Homo sapiens: one gene and its partners. The protein of the gene in region 7 purifies or fractionates together with the protein of the main gene of each other region. This does not show direct contact. Each region holds a gene or a part of one and is shown on either strand. Other genes may lie near its edges. The genes, in order: CNTNAP3, GUSB, POGLUT3, JAG2, ITGA7, CTBS and LILRA5.

Region 1 (3,500 bases), on a different chromosome or scaffold from region 7:
TCAATCAGAACATTTCTTCTTGACTGTTTTTGTAATTCTGCCAAATGGGAAACAGTTTTCATGACAAGAAAACATTTGCAGAAGAAAATTTAAAAAAGAAAACATTTGCTGTAACAAACTAAATACCAAAAGCTTACAAGTAATTGGCACTGATCCATAGTACACATGTAATCACTGGACTATTACATATTTTTTATCTTTTTATCAGCTGTATATTTCTTGACCTCATCATTTAGGTGGGTAGCTGCCTGCTACAACAGAGAGGCAGGGCTTCTTGCCACAGAGGAGTGCTTGTTAGTTGACTGAATGAATTCTGGCAACTGATTTTCCCAACAAAATACATTTTTAAATGTTTTCCTTTTATATATTGGAACAACTATTTTCCTGTTTTTATACAGAACACATAGAATTGTAGTAATTCTTAAAATGGAATTCCCATAATTAACATTATATATCCATATGCACAATTTGGAATGAATTGTCTTTTTGTTTTTGTGTGAAACTTACACATTTTAATAACCTCATTCAATGTAATTAGTAAATAGTTTTCTTGAGGATGATATCCAGAACCCAGAGATACCAGCTTAATTGTGGTTCTCCTTATTGGCTATACTCAATAATTCCATCAGTGAACCCATCAGTAATTCAGAATAACATGGAATGTATATGAAAACCTGTGTCTGTTGTCCTCAAATAGTCTTGTCTCTTTGTGTCATAAGGCCCAACTCACTCTTCCTCACTTCAATGACAGTGTCTTTGTAAATAGCCCCATAGAAGTTAGGGTGAGGAGGAGGGATTCTTCTGAACACCAAGGACTGGCAGATAAAAGGTAGCTTAATATTCAGAACGTGTTAGGTCAGGCTTCTTGACACGGATGCCCATTGGCCAAACCCATCTTTGTATCTGTATCTGAGTAACGCATCTCCAACAAAGCCAACTTCAATAACCAGGTCTTTTTTCTTTTTCCTGTTGAGCAGCACTTAAATGTCAGTTTCTCCATGGACAGAAACTTTAGGTAGAGGGCTGTTCCATTTATCTCCTTCCTCTTTTCATTTCTTTTTCATCTTGTCAAAGGAAACTGCACTCTGTGGAGCCTTGTTATCACTCTTCCCTTTGGTGTTTCCTTTTTCATGTATCTTGATGGTATTTTTCATTTTTATGATCTCAGCAGGGTGCTGTTCATAGTAAAACTTAGACTTCAAACCCATCTTTTTTTTTTTTTTTCTCCTTTACCTTCTTGGAAAGTTCATGGGCTTCACAGCTGTTTTTCCCTTTTTCTCATGCTAACCTAAGTGATGTATTCATTGTGTGGTCTGGTGACACACAGTCAGAGATATTTTCAGGTTTTGGTCCTGCAACCCATGAGCCAACTCCTCCAGCACATAACAGGAAAGAAAACATGTTCCCAACAATACAAATAAATATTCCCATGATGTGCTGCTGAGATACACTGACAACTAAACATGAGCTTTCCCTTTAACCCCAACTTGGATATTTCAAACTTTAAACATTGAAAGAAGTTTATTAACTGATTTGGAAGTATTTCCAGTTGATTAGGGAATAGATCATTAGGGATTGCCATTGCAAAATGATTGGTCTCCTGTGGATAACAACACCAAAAACACGTGAGACATATGAATTCTGATTTCCATGTAAAAATAGAAAGTTATTTTATTTCATATAAAAATGAAACAACGATGTCCCATGAGGCATATTTACTTTATAACTTTTTATGCATAATAAAAATTACTATATTAGGCTGGGTCAAGGTGGCTCGTGCCTGTAATCCTAGCATTTTGGGAGGCCGAGGCAAGTGTATCGTCTGAGGTCAGGAGTTTGAGACCAGCCTGGCCAATGTGGCAAAACCCTGTCTGTACTAAAAAAAATTAGCCGGGTGTGGTGGCACACACCTGTAGTCCCAGCTACTCGGAAGGCTGAGGCAGGAGAATGGCTTGAACCCAGGAGGCGGAGGTTGCAGTGAGCCAAGACTGTACCGCTGCACTCCAGCCTGGGCAACAGAGCAAGACTGCATCTCAAAACAAAAACAAAAACAAAAACAAAAAAAGTGCGCCTGTGGTCCTAGCACTTTGGGAGGCCGAGGTGGGCAGATCACGAGGTTGGGAGATCGAGACCATCCTGGCTAACATGGTGAAACCCCGTCTCTACCAAAAATATAAAAAATTAGCCGGGCATGGTGGTGGGAACCTGTAGTCCCAGGTACTCGGGAGGCTGAGGCGGGAGAATGGCGTGAACCCAGGAGGCAGAGCTTCACTGCACTCCAGTCTGGGCGACAGAGTGAGACTCCGTCTCAAAAAAAAAAAAAAAAAAATTGGCCCAGGCCCAGTGGCTCACACCTGTAATCCCAGCACTTTGGGAGGCCGAGGCAGGCAGATCACCTGAGGTCAGGAATTCGAGACTAGCCTGGCCAACATGGCGAAACCCCGTCTCTACTAAAAGTACAAAAATTAGCTGGGCATGGTGGCGGGCGCCTGTAATCCCAGCTACTCAGGAGGCTGAGGCAGGAGAATTGCTTGAACCTGGGAGGCGTAAGCTGCAGTGAGCTGAGATTGCGCCGCTGCACTCCAACCTGGGAGACAAGAGGGAGACTCTGTCTTAAAAATAAATAAATAAATAAAACTAAATTACTATATTACATGGGCAGCTGTTAAAGTAAGAACTGATTCTTAAAATATTAGATGAAATGGAGACTTCACATGAATAATTTTTAAATGCAAAAAATAAAATGTCCTTTTTTCTTTCCTTCCCATTAGGCTTCCTTACCATCATGAGGATCTGTGGTTTGTGTTTCTTGGCTAATTCGGTAACATCCACTCCATTATAATAAAGATTTTCTAAACACCCATGAAAGCTTTTACGTCTGAATGCCCGCGATCTTCCGGGTGTCGGAATTCCCCCAAAGCTGATCTTAGAAAGAAAAATGACATAAATAACATTGTTTAGTGATTTTCTGATGGTACGTGTTTAAAGCATTTATAATTAATAGGTCTAGTACTAACTGTCACAAATCCATTCCCATTATCTTATATTTGCATGCTTGCTTATTCCAAATGAAGTGTTCTATCATAATGACAGCTGTTAATACCTTTATTTCTGGCACCACACAGTTTTGAACAAACTTAAAAGGAAGAAGTCAACACACATTTTCTGCCACATTGAAATTTTCAGCCATGTAGTAAATTTACCCTTTGTGGGTCATATGATCTCTTTTGCAGCACTCAACTCTGACACGAAGTACCAATGTGGCCACGGACAATACATAAAGAAAGAGAACATGTTCCAATAAAACCTTCTCTTTTGAACAAAAACAGGCTTTGTATTTTTTTAATTAAAAAATGTCCAAACTTGGCCTGATGCCCATAGTTTGCCAACCTCTGCATTAGATATTATCTTTTGCTATTACATGGTTAAATTAAAGTAATAAAACTGAATAATCCGGTATAGGACTAGGATCTTCAGTTTAATATTATATGCCAAAGCCA
Region 2 (3,500 bases), on a different chromosome or scaffold from region 7:
GGTGGCATGTGCCTGTAGTCCCAGCTACTCAGGAGGCCAAGGCAGGAGGACTGCTGCAGGCTGAGAGTTCAAGGCTGCAGTGAGCTGTGATCAGGCCATTGCACTCCAGCCTGGGTGACAGAGTGAGACCATCTCAAAAAAAAAAAAAAAAAAGAAAATGGGCCTCCCACCAAGGGTGAGAAACATCAGAAAGCTCAGAGGACCATGCCTGCCCATCCACCTGTCTTGGGCTCCTGCTGAAGCCAGGGTCACCACATGGGGGCAAAAGACCTCCCTTAGGCATGTCCCAAACCACCATTACCTCCAATGAATACAGATAGGCAGGGCGTTCGTGCATCAGGTACGGCCACCAGAGGCTGACACCTGGCACCTTAAGTTGGCCCTGGGTCCCAGTCCCATTCGCCACGACTTTGTTTTCTGCATCCAAAAGACGCACTTCCAACTTGAACAGGTTACTGCCCTTGACAGAGATCTGGTAATTCACCAGCCCTGCAAGAAACAAGAGAGACCAGGGCTGAGGGAGGGACACGACCTGAGTCACACAAACAGGAGCGCCCTGCAGCCACCGCTGCCAGGCAGCCATTTGTTTCTGTTGCTTTTTTTAAATTTAATTTCTTATTTTTTTTTTTTGAGACGGAGTCTCACTCTGTCCCCCAGGCTGGAGTGCAGTGGCATGATCTCGGCTCACTGCAACCTCCACCTCTGGGGTTCAGGTGATTCTCCTGTCTCAGCCTCCCAAGTACCTGGGATTATAGACGTGCACCACCATGCTTGGCGAATTTTTATATTTTTAGTAGAGATGGGTTTTGTCATATTGGCCAGGCTGGTCTTGAACCCCTGACCTCAGGTGATCCACCCGCCTTGGCCTCCCAAAGTGCTGGGATTACAGGTGTGAGCCACCGCACCCGGTGCTTTTTTTAATTTAAAAAAAGATTTTGGCCAGGTGCAGTGGTCACACCTGTAATCCCAACACTTGAGGAGGCTGGGGTGGGAGGATCGCTTGAGACCAGGAGTTCAAGACCAGCCTGGGTAACATAGGGAAACCACTTCTTCCCTAAAAATACAAACAATCAGCCGGTCGTGGTGGTGCGTGCTTGCAGCCCCGGCAGCCCCAGCTACTTGGGAGGCTGAAGTGGGAGGATTGCTTGAGCCAGGAGTTCGGGGCTGCAGTGAGCTATGATCTTGAGGCAGGATAGGTAGTCAAGGAAGTGACCGTGTCCCTCAGACATGCCAACCACGGCACTGAGACACGTGACGTGTGAACAAGCATGTACAGCTACTACGCATGTGCAACCAGAGGACGGCCCAGAACGTGCTTACAGTAACACCTCTTCCCAGCTCCTTAGGAATTCATCACGGAAGACTCCCAGAAAGGGAGTTTCCCCAGTAATAATCGGTGCTGTCTCATCCTTACGAGCAGCCTGTCCTGAATTCTGTGTCTCAGGGTGAACTGTGCATTTTGCACTTCACTATTTTTTTTGAGATGGGGGTGTCACTCTGTCACCTAGGCTGGAGTGCAGTGTTGCAATCTCAGCTGACTGCAACCTCCACCTCCCGGGTTCAAACAATTCTCCCATCTCAACCTCCTGAGTAGCCGGGATTGCAGGCTCACACCACAATGTCCAGCTAATGTTGGCTAAGCTGGTTTGAACTTCTGAGCTCAAGTGATCCACCCATCTCGGCCTCCAAAAGTGCTGGGATTACAGGCATGAGCCAGTGCACCCAGGCTGTTCTAAACTTAACTTCCAAAATACCTTTCCTTGGCAATAAATTGCTCTATGGTGCATTGTCTTTGCTGTGGGATTCTTTTTTAAATTCTTTTTTATTCATTTATTTTATTTTATTTATTTATTTTTTTCTTAGATAGGGTCTCAGTATGTTGCCCAGGCTGGTCTCAAACTTTGCAGCTAAAGCGATCCATCCACCTTGGACTCCCAAAGTGCTGGGATGACAGGCATTAGCCACCACACCCAGCCTAAATTCTTTTAAACTTAGAACCGCGGCCCCACAACGGCTGTCAATAATCTCACCACTGCACTCCAGCCTGGGCCACAGTGCAAGCCTCATCTCAGAAAAAGAAAAAGATATATATATATTTTTTTATTTTTATTTTTTGACATGGAGTCTCGCTCTGTCCCCTAGGCTGGAGTGCAGTGATGCAATCTCAGCTCACTGCAAGCTCTGCCTCCCAGGTTCACGCCATTCTCCTGCCTCAGCCTCCCGAGTCGCTGGGACTACAGGCCCCTGCCACCATGCCCGGCTAATTTTTTGCATTTTTAGTAGAGACGGAGTTTCACCATGTTAGTCAGGATGGTCGCGATCTCCTGACCTCGTGATCCCCCCACCTTGGCCTCCCAAAGTGCTGGGATTACAGGCATGAGCCACCGCGCCCGCCCTGAAAAAGATATATTTTTAAAAAGAAAAAAAACTTAAAACAAAAATTTTTCTTAAATACAGACCGAGCGCTGTGGCTCATTCCTGTAATCCCAGCATTTTGGGAGACTGAGGCGGGTGGATCCCGAAGTCAGGAGTTGAACCAGCCTGGCCAACATGGTGAAACCCCATCTCTACTAAAAATACAAAAATTAGCTGGACGTGGTGGCACACGCCTGTAATCCCAGCTGCTCAGGAGGCTGAGGCAAGAGAATTGTTTGAACCCGGGAGGCGGAGGTTGCAGTGAGCCAAGAACACGCCACAGCACTCCAGCCTGGACAACAGAGCAAGACTCCATCTCAAAAACAAAAAACAAAAACAAAAAAAACAGGGTATCCCAGCTGGGCACAGTGGCTCACGCCTGTAACCCTTGCATTTTGGCAGGCCGAGGAGGGTGGATCACCTGAGGTTAGGAGTTCAAGACCAGTCAGGCCAATAGAGTGAAACCCTGTCTCTACTAAAAAAAAATAGAAAAATTAGCCGGGCGTGGTGGCGGGTGCCTATAATCCCAGTTACTCGGGAGGCTGAGGCAGGAGAATCGCTTGAACCCGGGAGGCAGAGGTTGCAGTGAGCCAAGATCACGCCATCGCACTCCAGCCTGGCGACAGAGCGAGACTCCAGCTCAAAAAAAAAAAAGAAGAAAAAAAGAAAGACAGGGTCTGCGTCTGTTGCCCAGACCAGAGTGCAGTGGTGTGGTCATAGCTCACTGCACCCTTGACATCCCAGGCTCAAGTGATTCTCCTGCCTCAGCAGCTGGGACTACCGGCACACATCACCATCCCTGGCTAATTTTTTAATTTTTTGTGGTGATGGCCTCACTATGTTGCCCAGGCTGCTCTTGAACTACTGGCCTCAAGTGATCCTTATACCAGGGCCTCCTTGCAAAGTGCTGGATGACAGGCATAAGCCACCATGCCCGGCGCCCCCCCCACCGAAGCTGCCTGTTCCTTGAGCACGATGTGTAGCAAGGGGAGATGGAGTGAGAGTAGCACCATAGAGAAGGGACAGGATTGCCACCCCGAGCTGTGTGACGTTAGGCCAGACCCCTCTTCTCCTAGCGAGGTCAA
Region 3 (3,500 bases), on a different chromosome or scaffold from region 7:
TGTCATGCTTAGAGTCCATGGATTTTTAACTATTTGGGCTTTAATCCTACCCAAAGGAGGAAAGACCAAATAAGCAAAAAGTTTATTTTTTATTTGCTTTTAAAAAATGATTTGCTTTTGTTCATGCAGTAAATCTTTATTGAATGACTAATGATTCAAATGTTGAGTCTGATCCGTGGTTTGAATACATGAACCAGACCAAGCTCTGTGGCTCAAGCCTGTAATCCCAACACTTTGGGAGGCTGAGGCAGTGGGGATCGCTTGAAGTCAGGAGTTTGAGATCAGCCTGGGCAACACAGCAAGACCCCCTCCAACCCATCCCGCCCCCCACCATCTCTACAAAAAATTTCAAAAATTAGCTGGGCATGGTGGCACACTCCTATAGTCCCAGCTACTCATGGGGCTGATGCAGGTTGAGGCAGGAGGTTCATGAGCCCAGGAGGTTGGAGCTGTAATGAGCTAGGATTCTGCCTCTGCACTCCTAGCTGGATGACAGAGCAAGACCCTGTCTCAAAAAAGAAAAAAAAAAAAAAAAGAATGCATGAACCAGACATGACAGTTCCTGGCCTCAAAGATCTTCCAAAGGAAATGATTTTTTTTTAACCACCAATGCTGCAGGAAAAAGCAACATATTTAAGTTATCCAATAACACCTATCCAATAATTGTAAATCATTATCATGACATGGTAGAGTTGTTTATATTTCTTTTCCTTTTAGGTGAAACACCATTCAAAGTCGTAGTCAAATCTCTTTCACCTAAAGAGTTGGTCCGGATACATGTCCCTAAACCTTTGGACAGGAATGATGGAACATTTTTGATGAGATATAGGATGTATGAAACTGTCGATGAAGGCCTGAAGATAGAGGTCCTTTATGGTGATGAACATGTGGCTCAGTCTCCCTATATTTTGAAAGGTAAGTGATTATTATATACTCCAGAGTCAGCCTTGTGTGTAGGTCCCATGCCTTTCAGAATGGCCTAAACCTGATGACCTCAAAGTCATGTGCAGTAAAGTAAACATTGTATACATACCTCCTGGAGCTCAATTTAAATTTTAAGGGAAAGAAAATTAAGTAAAGAGATTTAAATGATAAGAAAAAAATCTTGTGTATTTACATCCATGTAGTTACTATTTGCGAAACTCTTCATTCCTTTGTGTAGATCCATATTTCCATCTAGTAACATTTGCCTTCTGCTTAAAGGATTTTTATTAATATTTATTTTACTGTGAGAATGCTGGTGATGAATTCTTCCAGCTTTTGAATGTCTGAAAAAACTTTATTTTGCCTTTTGTTTGTTTGATTTGTTTTTTGTTTACTTTGAGACAGGGTCTTGCTCTATGGCCCAGGCTGGAGTACAGTGGCACAGTCAAAGCTCACTGCAGGCTGGGCGTGGTGGCTCACATCTGTAATCCCAACAATTTGGGAGGCTGAGGCGAGTGGATGGCTTGAGCTTAGGCATTCAAGACCAGCCTGGGCAACATGGTGAAACCCCGTCTCTACTAAAAATACAAAAATTAGCCAGGCATGGTGGCGGCGCATGCCTGAAGTCCCAGCTACTCGGGAGGCTGAGGCTGGAGAATCGCTTGAACCCGGGAGGTGGAGGTTGCAGTGAGCCAAGATCACATCACTGCACTCCAGCCTGGGTGACAGAGCGAGATTCCATCTCAAAAAAAAGCTCACTGCAACCTTAAACTGCTGGGCTAGGCCATGTGCAGTGGCTCACACCTATAATCCCAGCACTTTGGGAGGCCAAGGCCAGAGGATCACTTGAGCCCAGGAATTCAAGACCACGCTGAGCAACATGGCAAAAACCCATCTCTACAAAAAATTAGCTGGGTGTGGCGGCACATACCTGTAGTCCCAGCTACTCAGGGGGCTGAGGTAAGAGGATCACCTGAGCTCAGGGAGATCGAGGCTGCGGTAAGCTGTGATCGTGCCACTGCACTCTGGCCTGGGGGACAGAGTGAGACCCCCTGTCTCAAAACGAAATAAAACAGAAACAAAAACTGCTAGTTTAAAGCAAACCTCCCGCCTCAGCCTCTCAAGTAGCTAGGACTGCAGGCACATACCACCATGCCCAGCTAATTAAAAAATATTTTTTTGTTTCTACAAAACATTTTTTTGTTTCTACAGGGTCTTTTTATGTTACCTAGGCTAATCTCAAACTCCTGCACTCAAGTGATCCCCCTGCCTCGGCTCCCCAAAGTGCTGGGATTACAGGCATGAGCCACCATGCCCGGCCTAGTTTGCCTTTGTTTTTAAAAGACATTGTCTCTAGTTATAGTTATAGGTTGATGGGTTTTTTTTCTTTTGATACTTTAAAGATGTGGTTCCACTGTCTTCTCACTTGCATTGCTTCTAACAATAAATCTAGCATTTTCCTTATCTTTGTTCATCTGTGTTGCTTTTAAGGTTTTCTCTTTATCAGTTCTTTTGAGAAGTTTGATTATTATGTGCCTTGGTGCAGTTTCCTTAATGTTTCCTGTGTTTTGGATTTGTGGAACTTCTTGGAATTTAAACCATCCAAGTGATTTAAATTTCATCAAATTTAGAAAAATTATGGCCATTATTGCTTCAAATATGTTTTCTGTTCCATTCCACCTTACCTTCAAGGATACTAATTACCCATATATTGGGCTTGAAACTATCCTGTGGTTCATCGATACCCTTTTCATTTTTTAAATTCTTTTTTCTCTTTGTTTCATTTCGTATAGTTTCTATTACTGTCTCTAAGTTCTCTTTTCTTCTGCAATGTACGATCTGTTGTCAATCCTATACAGTGTAGTTTTCACCTCTTGATGCTTTTTCATCTTCTTGAGCTCTTTTCTGGGGTGCAGTTAAATCACTGGGAAATAGTTTAATCCTTCCAAGTTTTGCTTTTACAGTTTGTTAGGTGGGACTAGAGCCATGTGTAGTCTAGGGCTAATTATTCCCCGCTACTGAGGTAATACCCTTCTGCATACTTTACCCAAGCCCTGTGAATTAGGAGGCTTTCCAATCTGGCTGGTACCCACCGATAAGTACTGTTCTCTCTGGTCATTTTGGATGGGTTCTTCCCCTGTCTTCCCCAAGAACATATGAACACTCAGGTGGCAAATATCTTAGATGTCCATTTCTCAGCCTGAAATCTGTTTTCATCCTTTGTCATTATCATTCTAAATATTTAAATGTTATACCTAAATAATTAAACTGTATTATTTTTAGAATCAATACAGGGGAAGAACCCATCCAAAATGCACTGATCATATGCTCTGCTCAATATGTGAAGAGGACCTTCTATAGATCTCTAACGTTCTCTCTGTGCAGTGCTTCCTTTTTAGATACTCTGTCCTACAAAGTCTAGAGCTGCCTTGGTCTCCCTGGACTGCCAGCTCTGTCTCCTCAACTCAGTGAGGCTGCCTGGCTTTGCCTACAGTCCCCCTCCCTGTACTACAACCTCAAAGCTCCCTTAAGCAGTAGGCTGTAGGAATTGTAGGGCTTACCTTATTTGTTCCCCA
Region 4 (3,500 bases), on a different chromosome or scaffold from region 7:
TGGCTTGCAGCCTCCGGGTCTCTGCCCCTCGGTGACGTGACTGTCCAGCCAGCCTCCCCAGTCTCTCCTCACTGTCCTCACATGGCTGCCGCCATCAGACACATCCCATGCTCAGACACGCACCTACTGCACTAAGGAGCCTCCCGAGCTCAGGGCCCGGCTCTCACAGCTGTGTGCCCAACCTCCAGCCAGCTCCGGGCGACTCCTGACAGCAAGGCTGTGTGTGCCAGTGAGGACGTGAGGGCAAAGGTTGGGAGGGCAAAGACGGGCCGGCGGCACACTCACCTGCACTCCCCAGGCACGGTGCATCCCCCGTGGAGCAAATTACACCCTTGTTTACACACAGCTGCGAACAGAGAGGAGCGAGAGGCACAGCTGCAGCCAGCCTGGCCGCAAGGCCTGTGCCCGGGGCCCTGCCCGAGGCCCTCCCTGCCCTCCACGCAGCCCAGCGGCCCCCTCACCTTCCTTGCACTCCTTGCCCATCCAGCCGTCCATGCAGGCCTTGTTGCCGTACTGGTCGCAGGTGTAGTGGCCGAAAAAGTCGTTGCGGGGCCGGCAGAACTTGTTGCAAGTGGCGCTGTAGTAGTTCTCGTCGCAGCGCACGCGGATCTGCAGCTCCAGGTGCGCCACGTGGCCGCTGAAGTGCAGGCTCTTCCAGCGGTCCTCCGGGTTGATCATGCCGGCATGCGACACTCGCTCGATCAGCAGCTCCTCTTGGGGAGGCGGCAGAGTCAGCACAGGCCAGAGAAACCAGCCCGGCCAGGGGTCCTCCAGGAACAACGGGGACGGGGCAGAAGCCTGCGGCTGCTGCAAGGCCGGGGCACAGCAGGCAGCAGCACACGGAGGGCAGGGCCCCCGGCCAGGCTGCTACAGAAAGCTCAGGGCCCCGAGAGGCCTCTCCCTCCCGCCACCAAGCCTGCGCCCCGCTCCCACCCTAAACGCAGAGGGTCGGGGGGCCCGGCTAGGGGCTAGGGGCCCTGCAGGGAGGGCTGCTGAGACCACAGGCTCCACAGAGAAGGCACGGCTGCTGCCAGGGCGTGAGTCTCACGTCCCACACCTGTGCCCACCCACCTGCAGCCCTGCTCCAACACCTGCACCCACCTGCGCCGTGTCCAGCCCTCGACAGCACGGACATGGTGCTCAGTTGCCCTCCCCTCTCCTGCGCTGTGACTTGCTCCCAGAAGTGCCAAACACCACTACCGTCCCCACCTTAAGACAAGCCTCCCCTCAGGCCCCCAAGACAGGCATAGGTCCCGTGACCCGCTGTCTAAGCCTCACTTTAAGTAAGCCACCAGGAGACCAGGGGCCAGGGGCACCACAGCTGCTGGCGCTGGTATGCAAAGTCCGTGATGCCGGTCCCTGCGCTTAGGCACAGGCTCGACGTTTTGCACAATAAAAGGTGAACGGGTCCTCCAGACCCCACCTCTCCCGCCTCGGGCCAAGGCCTGGGAGGACACTGTGCTGGCCCACTCCCCAAGGGGCGTCCCGGCCGCCCCAGCCTCTCCAGGCTCACGTTGTCAAGAGCCCTGACGACCTTGCTTGGGACTCAGCCCACCTGTCTCTCTGCCACCCCCTCAGGAAACACCCCTGCCCTGAGCCGCTGGGGTCCCCACAACTGCTGCTCCCCACCTGGGCACCCCCACCGCCGTCCCTGCCCTGAAAACAGCCCCTCCACTCTGCTGGCAGCCAGGATGCCCTGGCCCCGCTCTCCCTCCTCCAACCCATTGGCCAACCCCATGCCTCCACTTCTGAGAGCCCCTCTCACCCCCAGACTGCCCCTGGTCCAAGTCACCCTGACACGCCCAGATTCACGTGGCAGCTCCTCCTCGGTCTGTGTCCTGGCCCCACAGCCCACCCTCCATAAGGCAGCCACAGCTTGCCAGGCGGAGCCCGTGTCCTCTCAGTGGCTTGCCAGCCTCCATGATCTGAGCCCAGCCCCGGCTGCTCCCCCTGCACAGCCAGCCCGCTCCTGCCCAGACCTTCACACGAGCTGCTCCCTTGGCCTGTGGGTGCTTCTGCATTCACCCATGGAAGTCATCCCGTTACCCCTGCAGGGCCCTGCAGAGCCCCTGCCTCAGGGAGAGGGCCACCAAGGCTCCATGCTCCAGTACAGACAAGCAGAGGGGGCCACAAAGCCAGAGACACACTCAAGGGTGTCCCCTCCACTAAGTCACTGCCATGGGCCCCAAAAGAGCACACCCAAGAGGAGAACAACATAGGCAAAGCCAGGACTGGGGAAGAGAGTGCATGCACAGCTCTGCAAGTCCCAAACGTGGCAGAGCTTCCTGGCAGCCAAAGCAAAAAGGGAAACAGCACACATGATCCTCAGGGTAAAGCAAGGCTTTGTCCCAAGCAGACAGAGGAGCTGGGCCCTGCCACAGGCACGCTGAAGCTGAGAGGAGCTGCCACCTGGCCCAGGGCTCACTCACCATTCGGGGTGGTATCGTTGTCCCAGTCCCAGGCCTCCACGATGAGGGTAAAGGAGCGCTGCAGACATGGGGAGGCGGGTCAGGTACCTGAGGCCACACCTGCCTGCCTCGTTCAGGGTGGGACAAGGCCCAGGGCTCAGACGCTGCCCCTGGGTCTGCCAGGCTCTGGCCCTTCCTCCCCAGCCAGGGACCCACCACCCTCCTCATCCTCAGGCCACATCCTCTGCAGACCCAAAAATGACCCAGCTCAAGGGAGGGAGACTGCCCCTCCAGGCCACGCGGGCTCAGGGGCCTGGGCTCCCTACCGTTGGGGTGCCAGAGGCCCAGCCTGCCCTGAGCTGGCTCAAGTCAGCACGGAGCACAGGAAGAGCGACCGGGGGGAGAGGTGGGCAAAGGGCAGCCTGGCTGGAGTGGCCACAGACAGGGGCCCCATGGGCAGCCGGGACCCGAGCGTTTCCTGTGGAACGCCCCTTGGTGCCTCACTGGGGGTGACCACGGGGGAGAACGTGGGGCCCCATCACCACGCTGGCGGCCTCCACCAAGTGCACGGGGTGGCCAAGTACAGGGCGCCCAGCCAGAGGCCCCAACAGGCCGGAGCTCAGGTCCTGCAGGCATACAGCACACAGGCAAACCCACACCTACCTCCACCCTCACACAGAACAGGTGGCAGGAGGGGCCCTTGCGGTACAGTTGGGGAAACTGAGGCCAAGAGGTCCTGGGACTGCCCAGCACAGCCTCAGACCATGGCCACTATGCCCCCTCTGCCCCCGGGCCACCTGGCCCTTGTACCCCAGCCATGGCGACAGGCGATGCTGTCAGCCAAGCAAAGAGACCACAGGGCTGGCCCCCTGCTCCGCCTAGTGCAGCCCACGGAGACCGTCACTCACAGACATGCTCAGACAGGTGGGACCCCCGGGACATGCCCTGTACTACCCAGCACTGGGTACCCACATTCCACAGCCTCTCAGCCCTCACTGCCCAGGAACCCCCCAGTCTACCCCTGGTGTGCTCTTGACCCCTGAGCCCAGCCCTGGCTCCTTCCAGGTGGGGCCCAGAGGAGGGGGCTGGGGC
Region 5 (3,500 bases), on a different chromosome or scaffold from region 7:
TCATATTGACCTCATCTGACCCCTTGGGAGGTGCCTGTGCCTGATGCCCATACTTGCCCCTGCCCACTCACCAGGATCAGTGAGCAGGAGCTGCATCCAGTCTCTGCACGAGCCCGTGTCTTCATTGAGCTGCCACTGTCCATTGCAGGGTGAGCCTGGCCCAAGGGGGCACCTCCATTGGAGGGAGGGGGCATTGACATTTCCAAACCTTGGCCAGGGCCCTGCCTTCATTGAGCCAGGCCCCAGACCTTCTCACCCCTGTTCTGACCTCTCCACGCCAGAATGGCCATTCCCCAGCAACTCTTCTTCTCTGGTGTGGTGAGGGGCGAGAGAGCCATGCAGTCTGAGCGGGATGTGGGCAGCAAGGTCAAGTATGAGGTCACGGTAAGTGTCAGGGATGAGGCCCCTCCATGGTCACCCTCCCTCCTTGGCACAGAGGAGAGGCTGAGCTGTGTCCCCAGGGCTGGGGCTCTTCTACCATGTGGCAGCATGCAGTTTGAGGCCTCTGTCCTGCATATGGACCTTGGCTGTGGGAAGGTGTTCCTGCTGGGGCCTCATTTGACCATTTCCTGGTCATTCTGTCTGGCTGTCTCACCTGCTGGTGTGGTAGGCCATGAGAGTCCAGGGAAGCTTCTCTGCTGTGGGCCTCAGCTGGGGGATGGGAACATGGGGCGGGGGGTTAATGTCTCTCCCTAGAACTCTGCCTTTGCTTGGCTGGGGCCTCTCCTCACACCTTCCAGGGACACTTCCAGGGTTTCCCGGATTTGGTGGGTGGAGAGAATGGTGCCTGGTGGGGTCTAGGATCCTGAGTATTTGTTGAAATTGTGTTTCCTGAGGGCCTTCTCTTCAGCCCTTGTTCCTTCCATCTCTGTGGATTTAGGATCCACTTGAAAGCTGAGTTCCTTGGCTGGGCACGGTGGCTCATGCCTGTAATCACAGCACTACAGGAGGCCAAGGTGGCAGGATCACTTGAGCCCAGGAGTTAGAGACAAGCCTGGGCAACATAGATCCTGTCTCTACAAAAAATTAAAAAAAAAAAAAAAAGAAAAACTGAGGTCTCTCCCCTCATACTCTCTTTTTCCCACAGGTTTCCAACCAAGGCCAGTCGCTCAGAACCCTGGGCTCTGCCTTCCTCAACATCATGTGGCCTCATGAGATTGCCAATGGGAAGTGGTTGCTGTACCCAATGCAGGTTGAGCTGGAGGGCGGGCAGGGGCCTGGGCAGAAAGGGCTTTGCTCTCCCAGGCCCAACATCCTCCACCTGGTGAGGCTTAGGTGGGGGTGGGGGTTAGATGTGGGGACAGATGTTATGGGGAGTAAGGGTAGTGAGTGCAGTGATGGGGCAGGAGGAAGGCGGTGGGGAGGAGATTCGATCTTAGCACTGCTGTGATTGGAGGGACACTCACTAAGACCCCCCTTCCGTGTCCAGGATGTGGACAGTAGGGATAGGAGGCGGCGGGAGCTGGAGCCACCTGAGCAGCAGGAGCCTGGTGAGCGGCAGGAGCCCAGCATGTCCTGGTGGCCAGTGTCCTCTGCTGAGAAGAAGAAAAACATCACCCTGGTGAGGGCAGGCCAGACTCGGTGCAGCCAGAGCTCCGGGGTGCTGCGTGTCCAGGAAGGGTACCTGTTGAGACACATGATGGTCTGGGTGCAAGTTGACCAGATGTTCCCATCACAATTCATAGGAGGGGGTGCCCGGGAGGCAGCTACTGACACTGCAGACCCCCTTCCTGCTCAGCCCCTGCAATTGCTCACTCTAGAACAGGTCACTCCACCTGAAGCCAGTTAGTTAGCCAAGCAATTGATTCACATTACGTTTATATAAAGCATTACATTTTATACGTGATGGGATGGGGTTAGCCCATCCTCACACTTTGAGGTCTGTTTGTCGTTCTTTTGAACTCTTATAAGATAAAAAAGTCAATTTGTGTAAGGACACTTGCTTGATTTTTACAGTATTAAAAATGTTAAGTTCTTTTTTGTTGTTGTTGAGACGGAGTCTTGCTCTGTCACCAAGGCTAGAGTGCAGTGGCACGATCTCAGCTCACTGCAACCTCTGCCTCTGGTTCAAGCGATTCTCCTTCCTCAGCCTCCTAAGTAGCTGGGACTACAGGTGCATGCCACCACACCCGGCTGATTTTTGTATTTTTAGTAGAGACGGGGTTTCACCATGTTGGCCAGGCTGGCTGGTCTCGAACTCCTAACCTCGAGCGATCTGTCTGCCTCGGCCTCCCAAAGTGCTGGGATTATAGGCCTGAGCCACGCGCTCAGCAAAAACACTAAATTCTAAAAGTTCTAATAATTAAGACAACCGTATATTATATGTGATTTATTAAGTTTACCCCTTTTGAGCAGTTTTGCTTTCCCCTTTTCTGCTTGTTTTGCAGAGTTGTGTTGTTTAGGTGAAGGTATTGAGCAGATCCGCACATGCTCTGTGCCCCTCCCTGCTAGGATGGGGCTCGCAGTGAGAATGTGGTGGGGACTTAGATTAGGAGGTCTTTGGCTTGATTGTAAGGAGGTGGAGGTAAACCCCAGGTAGAGCCAAGGAGACCCTTTGCAGGGGAATGTCAGCAGCTGCTGCAGTCCCTGCTTTGGGCCCTCAGCTCCCCTGGGAGCATGGCATGAGGCAAACTGAAGAACGTCAGGGGATGTAGGAACCCATGTCGTGGCTGTTGCTCTATTACATGGATAATCCTCCCTTCTCCACGTGACCGATTTCCTCTGAGAGGCCTCCCTTTTAAATGGGAACTTTGAAATAGATTCTTTTTGTTTTCATGTTAAAATGTATTTATTTATTTAAATGACAAAAATTATATTTATCATGTATAATACAATGTTTTGAAATATGTATATACTGTGGAATGGCTATATTGAGCTAATTAACATATGCATCACCTCACATACTTATTTTTGTGGTAAGAACACTTAAAATCTATTCTCTTAGTGATTCTCAGGAATACAATATGTTGTTATTAACTACAGTCCCCATGTTGTGCATTAGATCTCTTAAATAGATATCTCTTCCTTCTGTCTAACTGAAACTTTGTATCTTTTGACCACCATCTCCTCCATCTCCCCAGCCACACCCCGCCTCCACTCCAGCCCTAGGTAACAACTATTCTACTCTCTACTTCTATGAGTTCAACTTTCAGATTCCACATATAAGTGAGATAATGCAGTATTTATCTTTCTGAATCTGGCTTACTTTGCTTAACATAATGTCTAAAGTAGATTCTTTTTTATTTTATTTTATTTTTTTATTTTTTATTTTTTAATTTTATTATTATTATACTTTAAGTTTTAGGGTACATGTGCACAATGTGCAGGTTAGTTACATATGTATACATGTGCCATGCTGGTGTGCTGCACCCATTAACTCGTCATTTAGCATTAGGTATATCTCCTAAAGCTATCCCTCCCCACTGCCCCCACCCCACAACAGTCCCCAGAGTGTGATGTTCCCCTTCCTGTGTCCATGTGTTCTCATTGTTCAATTCCCA
Region 6 (3,500 bases), on a different chromosome or scaffold from region 7:
AAACAGTAAATGTATTTATGGCTCCATCTGCAGTAGCCAGAAACTTGAGTATTATCAGACTTCTCTCCTTTGATTACTCATTCGATTAGTCACAAAGTCCTGTCAATTTTGCCTCCTTAGGATCTTCCAGATCTGTTCACTTAACGCCACTGCTCCACAATTTTAGTTGAGGTCACCATCATCTCTTACTTGGATTCCTCCAACAGTTTCTGTATTCTGCCTCCAGTTTTGGTGTCTCTTTAATCCTTTTCCCACTGCAGCTGAAAATATTTTTCTAAAATGCATACCTTCCCCTTTTAAAAATGCTTTTATTCTCTCCCTTTACCTCAGGATAAACAAGGTAGTACTAACTTCTCAACAGAGCTTATGAGGCCTTTCATGATTTAATCCATGCCTACTACTCTCTGGTCCTTCACTAATGCTCTCTCCCCAAATTCTAGACGTCGGCCATACTAAATATTTAGTTACGCAACCACCATGTTGTCTCTGCCTCCAGGCCTTGGCACTTGCCACTCTTCCTTCCTGGCCCATCCTTCCCCTCTTTCCCAGCCTGGCTAATTACCCCTGCCACCAATTATCTTGGGACCCCTATGTCTTATGCACTTGTACTCTCACTGCCACCATAGTGTTTGGTGTATGGTGATGTTTGATGAACGGTATTTTGGACGGTCAGCATAATATTCTTGGTTTAAATGATGGTGCTCATCTTTGTTCTGGCAGGTCTTTGTGTTTGATGTTGGACAGAAAACTTGGAAATCTTATGATTGGTCACAGATTACAACTGTGGCAACATTTGGAAAATATGACTCAGAACTTATGTGCTACGCTCATTCAAAAGGAGCCAGAGTAGTACTTAAAGGTATGTTGTTTCCAGATCTATGTGTGCAGCAATTGGGAAATTTATCTGTATCACTTGCTATAGTCCCGACTTTCCAAAAAAGTCCTTTTATGTTTATCTGTTTTTGTTAGGATCCTATAATTAATCTTAGATACTGTGTAATTCATTTCACAAACACAGATCTTTTTAAAAGAATTAAACCACTGTATGGTTTTGAGCAAAATGTTAACTGCCAAATTAGCCTTATGACCTTTACTTAATCATAGTCCACAATTTCTGTTTCTAACTTCAGAACAATTTTACTAATGATTTATAATGGTTATTTTGGAGATTCATGAGTAATGGCTTTCTGTTACTTTGGTATATTCTTTCTCCATTGGAAAACTTCAGTTAAGGGCTTAGTCTTCCAAAATAATGAAATGTTTTTGCATACATGTTCAAAAGATATATACTTCTTCCACAGGAGATGTATCCTTAAAGGATATCATTGATCCTGCTTTCAGAGCATCCTGGATAGCTCAAAAACTTAATTTGGCCAAAACACAATATATGGATGGAATTAATATAGATATAGAGCAAGAAGTTAATTGTTTATCACCTGAATATGATGCATTAACTGCTTTAGTCAAAGAAACTACAGACTCTTTCCATCGTGAAATTGAGGGATCACAGGTAAAAACTCATTTATTTTTTGGAAACCTCATATTTTCCATATCAGAATATACTCATGAGGGTATAACTAATATAATCTTTGTTTTATAGTAATGCAATGGGAAAGAGTTTCAGCACTTATTTCCTAAAAAATTTTTCTGGAGCCTTTGGTGTTCTTATTTAAGGAATTTTAAAGCCCTAAATCTATTCTCTATTCACAGCAAAATACAACACTGGGATTACCCCCACTACTTGCCTTGTAGCACAGTTAGAAGTGTTAGGCAATGGGAGAACAAAAATCAAGGGGGGCGCCTAACCAGCTTTTACCAATGCAGGACAGAAACAACCCAGGAGTAGAGGTAGTTCTGGGGAAGTGTATCACTTGCTCTACAGTCTCTGAATTACTTGCACCCAAGGCCCAGTAAAGCTTAAAGGACTAACTACACAGAACTGTGACAGCTATAACAATAGGCAGTGTGCTTCCCCACTGCCATAATGAACATGATTAGAGCAGAAGGTAACAACACAAGCTATCTTGCCAGACAACAGATGGGTAACAGAGGATAATGTGAACCCAGATCAGTGATCCTCAAACTTGGCCACATATCAAGATAACCATAGGTCTTAAGGAAAAGTAAGCATGTGTTTACTTTTCCACACACATGCACACTGTGAACTCACTCCCAGAAATGATTTTTCAAAAGGTTTTGGGTAATCCCAGAGCCCCCAATTTTAAAAAAGTTTCATTGGTGATTATAGTTAAGAAGTAATAGGCTAGACAATGAGTTTTTTTGAAGACGGGGTGCAGCTCCTTGATATCTAACAGAATGCTTAAAAATGTATTCCAGTATAGAGCATTATGAGTATTATAAACCAGTGATTCCTAAACCTGTCTCAGAATTACCTGAGAGTGCTTGTTTAAAATATCCTGAGTGTATTAGTTTGTTCTCACATTGCTATAAAGAAATACCTGAGACTGGGTAATTTATAAAGACAATAGGTTTAATTGGCTCACGGTTCTGCAGGCTATACAGGAAGCATAATGCTGACATCTGCTTGGCTTTTGGGAGGCCTCAGGAAAACTTACAGTCATGGTGGAAGGCAAAGCGGGATCAGCACTTCAAACAGCCAGAGAAGGAGAAAGAGAGAGGGTGGGGAGGTGCCACACACTTTTAAACAATCAGATCTTGTGAGAACTCTATCACGAGAACAGCACTGGAGGGGGAAATCTGCCCCTGTAATCCAGTTACCTCCTACCAGGCCCTACCTCCAACATTGGGGATTACGATTCAACATGAGATTTGGGCGGGGACACAGATCCAAACCATATCACTGAGATTGACTCAGTAGGTCTGGGATAGAGCTTAGAGAACTGTATTTTTGCCAAGTGTCCTAGGTGATTCTGGTAGAGTTGGTCATCATGAATTTGAAAATTACAGGTAAAATAATTTGAGAATTACTGGTAAAATAATAAGCAATATGACGACTGACATTTCTGTGGTTTTATGCAAATAGGGAAGATCTGTCAGTATGGAATTCAACTTGTCAGGAGAGTACAATGTAGATTAAGAACAGCAAATACCTGGCATACAGGCCACAATACCCCTTCTCCTCCTCACACATTTTGGCCTCAGAAACTTTTCCTTCATTCTCTAGATAGTGATTACTAATAGGTTAGAATTGATGTGTGGAATATATGGGAAACAACCTATTTGACAATCCTGATTAAGCTGTAGTGAAAGAGCAGAGAGGAAGAGATTGAGCAAAATCCTTGCAGTAGGAATATCTCTTTCTGTCTCTTGAGAGGTGAGGAGAACAATTTGGGCTACATGTCAAGTTCATGTTAGGTGAATTAGTGGGAGGGACAGTTGCAAAGGTAGGCCAGATTGTGGAAGATCCAGAATGTCAGGCTGAGGACTGTGCATTTTATTCTGTGTGTAATGGGTTATGTGTGTAAAATAGTGTTTGGGGAAACTATTCTGTAGGAGTATGTAAAACTAGATGAGAAAGG
Region 7 (3,597 bases):
CATGGTGGCATGCGCCTGTAGTCCCAGCTACTTGGGAGGCTGAGGAAGAAGAATTGCTTGAACTCGGGAGGTGGAGGTTGCAGTGAGCCGACATAGTGCCACTACACTCCAGCCTGGGTGACAAAGCGAGACTCCGTCTCAAAAAAAAAAAAAGAGCGAATGGGGCTTGAAGGCTACAGACAAGAGGTTAGGACGCCATTTTGGATTTATCTTTTCCTGGAGGGCATCTGATCTTCTCCCATGGATTTAGTTACTGGTTCAGGTGTGGAACTCTGAACTGAAGAGATGGAGGCTCAGTAAAGCACACAGGGAGTGTGATAATGAGAATTGAAGTGGACTGTGTGACACGCCAAGGACCAGAGCATGCAGGTGTGCAGAGATGTGGACCCAACGCTGCCTGCCATGTGGGATGTAGCCTCATGTCTCGGGCTGGGAAGAGAAGGGAATCCAACCAAGGGAAGTCAACATTAATAGAAAGGAAAGGTGTCACATTTTAATGGTCCTCCATGGATCACCCCAGACCAGTGTCTCTGCACTCAAACACCCATTCCTCCCTCTAGAAATTGCCAGAGGCTGAGGCAGGAGAATCACTTGAACCCGAGAGGCGGAGGTTGCAGTGAGCCCAGATTGCGCCACTGCATTCCAGCCTGGTGACAGAGCAAGACTCCATCTCAAAAAAAAAAAAAAAAAAAAAAAAGAAAGAAAAGAAAAGAAAGAAAAAAAGAAATTGCCAGCAGACAGTCCAGATGGCATAGGCCTCAGATGGTCTTCCCGAACCTCCTAGGACCATCAGATTCGCTTCCAAGGCTCCAGCATTCAATGGTGCATTGTTCTCTCTTCTGTTCACCTTCCAGCTGCAGCTTGGGGGCTTCTCTGGCTGTGCCAATCCTGAAATATCAGAATCCCAAGGACCACCAGGATCAAGCCGGCCATGCCCATGCGGATGAGATTCTCTACTGCGTAATCCTGAAGGTGTGAGGCTGGGGATGGTGGACAAAGAGGTCACAGAGGTCAGGGCAGATCAGTATCACCCAGGACCCCTGGATGTCTCCCCAGGGCACCCATATCATCTTGACAGGACCTGACCCTCTGTGCCAGTTCCATAACTGAGAGCATCTCCTCACTCACCAGTCCCAGAGTCAGACTTGTTTTGTGACGGACTGAGGTTATCAGCTGCTCCTGAAAATCAAAACAGGGGAAGGGGAAGGAGAAGTTCTTGAAGCAATCTGAGCCCAGCCTCTCCCCTGAGCTCTGCATTCTCCTAGTTCCCTGTGCCTCTCAACATGACTTTTATGGAGTTCCTCCATAAACCCTCCCTCTGCTGGAGCAGGGTTCCCTCCAGTCTCCTCACTGAATTATTTCAGCTTTCCTTTGTTCTTTGAATTTAAACTTTGCTCCTGAGTCATTTGGGAAAGAGCTTTCCTGCACCGTGAAAGCTCAGGATCTGCAAGGAAAGTGGCCCCCAGAAGTCACTGAGCCCTTTGTGCTCTCTGTGCAGCCTGGGACACAGGAGCACATAAGCCAATTCCCCCAGAGATGAGAGTTTCACGGATCCACCAGCTGAGGACCCAGGCTCCATGGATGACGGGTTGGTCCTCAGGGGCTCCTGAAAGTCAGAATCACAAACAGCTGCCTCCCCTTGACGCCACCTCAACCACCTCACCTGGTGTTTCATCATACAATAAGTCTCTAGTCAGCTAACTATTCATATAGTCAGTCATATATATATACGTATGTATATAAATGTGTGTGTGTGTGTGTGTGTGTATATATATGTATATATAAATATATATATATATATATATATATATATATATATATATATATATATATATATATGGTGTTACAGAGGCTCATAAAACAATTTCTGCTTTTAGGGCCAGGCGTGGTGGCTCATGCCTGTAATCCCAGCACTTTGGGAGGCCAAGGCGGGCAGATCACGAGGTTAGGAGTTCGAGACCAGCCTGGCCAACATGGTGAAACCCCGTCTCTACTAAAAATAAAAAAATGAGCCGGGCATGGTGGCACCTGCCTGTAATCCCAGCTACTTGGGAGGCTGAGACAGGAGAATCACTTGAACCTGGGAGGCAGAGGTTGCAGTGAGCCCAGGTCATGCCATTGCACTCCAGCTTGGGCAACAGGGCAAGAGACTCCATCTCAAACAAACAAACAAAAATTTCTGCTTTTATAAAGTGTGAGTCTAGGTGAGAAGACCAATAACAAACATGTAAAAGCCCTCCATGTCAAATACATTAAGCATGTAGATATACGTATAAAAAATATATGCAGATATACCTACACTTATATTCAGATGTAACTTATATAACCATACATAAATATGTATATATGTAAAACTTTAGATATTTATTTAAGATGCAGTTACATGCATATTAATACTTGAAGTGACAAAAATTGATATGCGGTTTAGAAATAAAAAATAAAATTTCAATTTTCTTATAGTTAATATAAATTTTATCAGTAAATTTGGGGAGATCAGTTGAAAGATAATTGAAAGGGAAAAATGTTATAGCAAGCTAAAATGAAATTAAATGAATATACTCAAACTAAAAGCTTTCTCATGTGTATATCTTACTTAGAAATATAAATGAATCAGGCTGGGCATGGTGGCTCACGCCTGTAATCCCAGCACTTTGGGAGGCCTAGGTGGGTGGATCACGAGGTCAGGAGATCGAGACCATCCTGGCTAACACAGTGAAACCCCATCTCTACTAAAAATACAAAAAAATTAGCCCGGCATGGTGGTGGGTGCCTGTAGTCCCAGCTACTCGGGAGGCTGAGGCAGGACAATGGCGTGAACCCAGGAGGCGGAGCTTGCAGTGAGCCGAGATCGCGCCACTGCACTCCAGGCTGGGCGACAGAGCAAGACTCCATCTCAAAAACAAAAACAAACAAACAAACAAAAGAAATATACATGAATCAAATACTTCACTTAAGAATAAAGTAGTTGAAGAATTTTTTAAATTAGACTAAATGTACACATTCTTATGAACGGAACTTGAAAACACTTATTAACTTCATTAATAAACTTCAATTTTATATATTAATAATAGAAATACTTGCTATTAACAACTAATTTTATACAGCAAATGTAAATATTGAATTATGCCCCCAGGACAATGGGAGTGGAATTACTTGTTTTTAAATCATAAATCCATATATCTTAAAGAGACAAATTTAAATATTCAAATATTGTTTTAAAAGATTCAGAAGAAGAGAGAAAAAATAAACAAGTATGCCCAGAAAATGCAGAGCAGCAATGAACAGCAGACAAGACGTGCTGTGAATAAGTTCCTAACTTCCTCCAGGGAGCAGGTGCGCGGCCCCTCCTTTGTCTCAGGGGTGCCCTGAGCACAGAGGCCTCCAGGTGAGCACAGGAGGGGCGGTGTGAGTGGTACCCACAGCTGGGGCGCTTCTCTCTAAAGGAGCAGGTCTGGCGTGGACTCCAGCCTCATCACCGTCAGATCCCACCGAGGCCTGAGCAGCCTCCTCCCCTGTCCTGAGTGGGCTCAGGGACCCCGCAGGTGTGGGTGAGGGGCTCCATCCTCAGGGGCTCTTGGAAATGAGAAGTGAGAGCTG

What was found.
Region 1: the proteins of LILRA5 (region 7) and CNTNAP3 purify together in Homo sapiens (affinity purification with mass spectrometry; one large-scale study listed by BioGRID and IntAct). This does not show direct contact.
Region 2: the proteins of LILRA5 (region 7) and GUSB purify together in Homo sapiens (affinity purification with mass spectrometry; one large-scale study listed by BioGRID and IntAct). This does not show direct contact.
Region 3: the proteins of LILRA5 (region 7) and POGLUT3 purify together in Homo sapiens (affinity purification with mass spectrometry; one large-scale study listed by BioGRID and IntAct). This does not show direct contact.
Region 4: the proteins of LILRA5 (region 7) and JAG2 purify together in Homo sapiens (affinity purification with mass spectrometry; one large-scale study listed by BioGRID and IntAct). This does not show direct contact.
Region 5: the proteins of LILRA5 (region 7) and ITGA7 purify together in Homo sapiens (affinity purification with mass spectrometry; one large-scale study listed by BioGRID and IntAct). This does not show direct contact.
Region 6: the proteins of LILRA5 (region 7) and CTBS purify together in Homo sapiens (affinity purification with mass spectrometry; one large-scale study listed by BioGRID and IntAct). This does not show direct contact.

Annotation. Positions count from the first base shown.
Region 1 is NC_000009.12:39,173,168-39,176,667, forward strand, and holds part of CNTNAP3 (contactin-associated protein-like 3 isoform 1 precursor), read right to left. Parts: intron 2,926-3,500; coding exon 2,782-2,925; intron 1-2,781.
Region 2 is NC_000007.14:65,975,714-65,979,213, forward strand, and holds part of GUSB (beta-glucuronidase isoform 1 precursor), read right to left. Parts: intron 490-3,500; coding exon 302-489; intron 1-301. UniProt on the Homo sapiens protein: Plays an important role in the degradation of dermatan and keratan sulfates.
Region 3 is NC_000011.10:108,488,385-108,491,884, reverse strand, and holds part of POGLUT3 (protein O-glucosyltransferase 3 isoform 1 precursor), read left to right. Parts: exon of another isoform or gene 1-683; coding exon of another isoform or gene 684-717; coding exon 718-915; intron 916-3,500. UniProt on the Homo sapiens protein: Protein glucosyltransferase that catalyzes the transfer of glucose from UDP-glucose to a serine residue within the consensus sequence peptide C-X-N-T-X-G-S-F-X-C. Can also catalyze the transfer of xylose from UDP-xylose but less efficiently.
Region 4 is NC_000014.9:105,155,277-105,158,776, forward strand, and holds part of JAG2 (protein jagged-2 isoform a precursor), read right to left. Parts: intron 2,488-3,500; coding exon 2,430-2,487; intron 714-2,429; coding exon 462-713; intron 347-461; coding exon 286-346; intron 1-285. UniProt on the Homo sapiens protein: Putative Notch ligand involved in the mediation of Notch signaling. Involved in limb development.
Region 5 is NC_000012.12:55,690,905-55,694,404, reverse strand, and holds part of ITGA7 (integrin alpha-7 isoform 2 precursor), read left to right. Parts: intron 1-74; coding exon 75-149; intron 150-281; coding exon 282-384; intron 385-1,087; coding exon 1,088-1,264; intron 1,265-1,429; coding exon 1,430-1,561; intron 1,562-3,500. UniProt on the Homo sapiens protein: Integrin alpha-7/beta-1 is the primary laminin receptor on skeletal myoblasts and adult myofibers.
Region 6 is NC_000001.11:84,567,941-84,571,440, reverse strand, and holds part of CTBS (di-N-acetylchitobiase precursor), read left to right. Parts: intron 1-720; coding exon 721-859; intron 860-1,301; coding exon 1,302-1,510; intron 1,511-3,500. UniProt on the Homo sapiens protein: Involved in the degradation of asparagine-linked glycoproteins. Hydrolyze of N-acetyl-beta-D-glucosamine (1-4)N-acetylglucosamine chitobiose core from the reducing end of the bond, it requires prior cleavage by glycosylasparaginase.
Region 7 is NC_000019.10:54,306,570-54,310,166, forward strand, and holds the end of LILRA5 (leukocyte immunoglobulin-like receptor subfamily A member 5 isoform 1 precursor), read right to left. Parts: intron 1,180-3,597; coding exon 1,129-1,179; intron 981-1,128; coding exon 844-980; 3' UTR 501-843; downstream 1-500. UniProt on the Homo sapiens protein: May play a role in triggering innate immune responses. Does not seem to play a role for any class I MHC antigen recognition.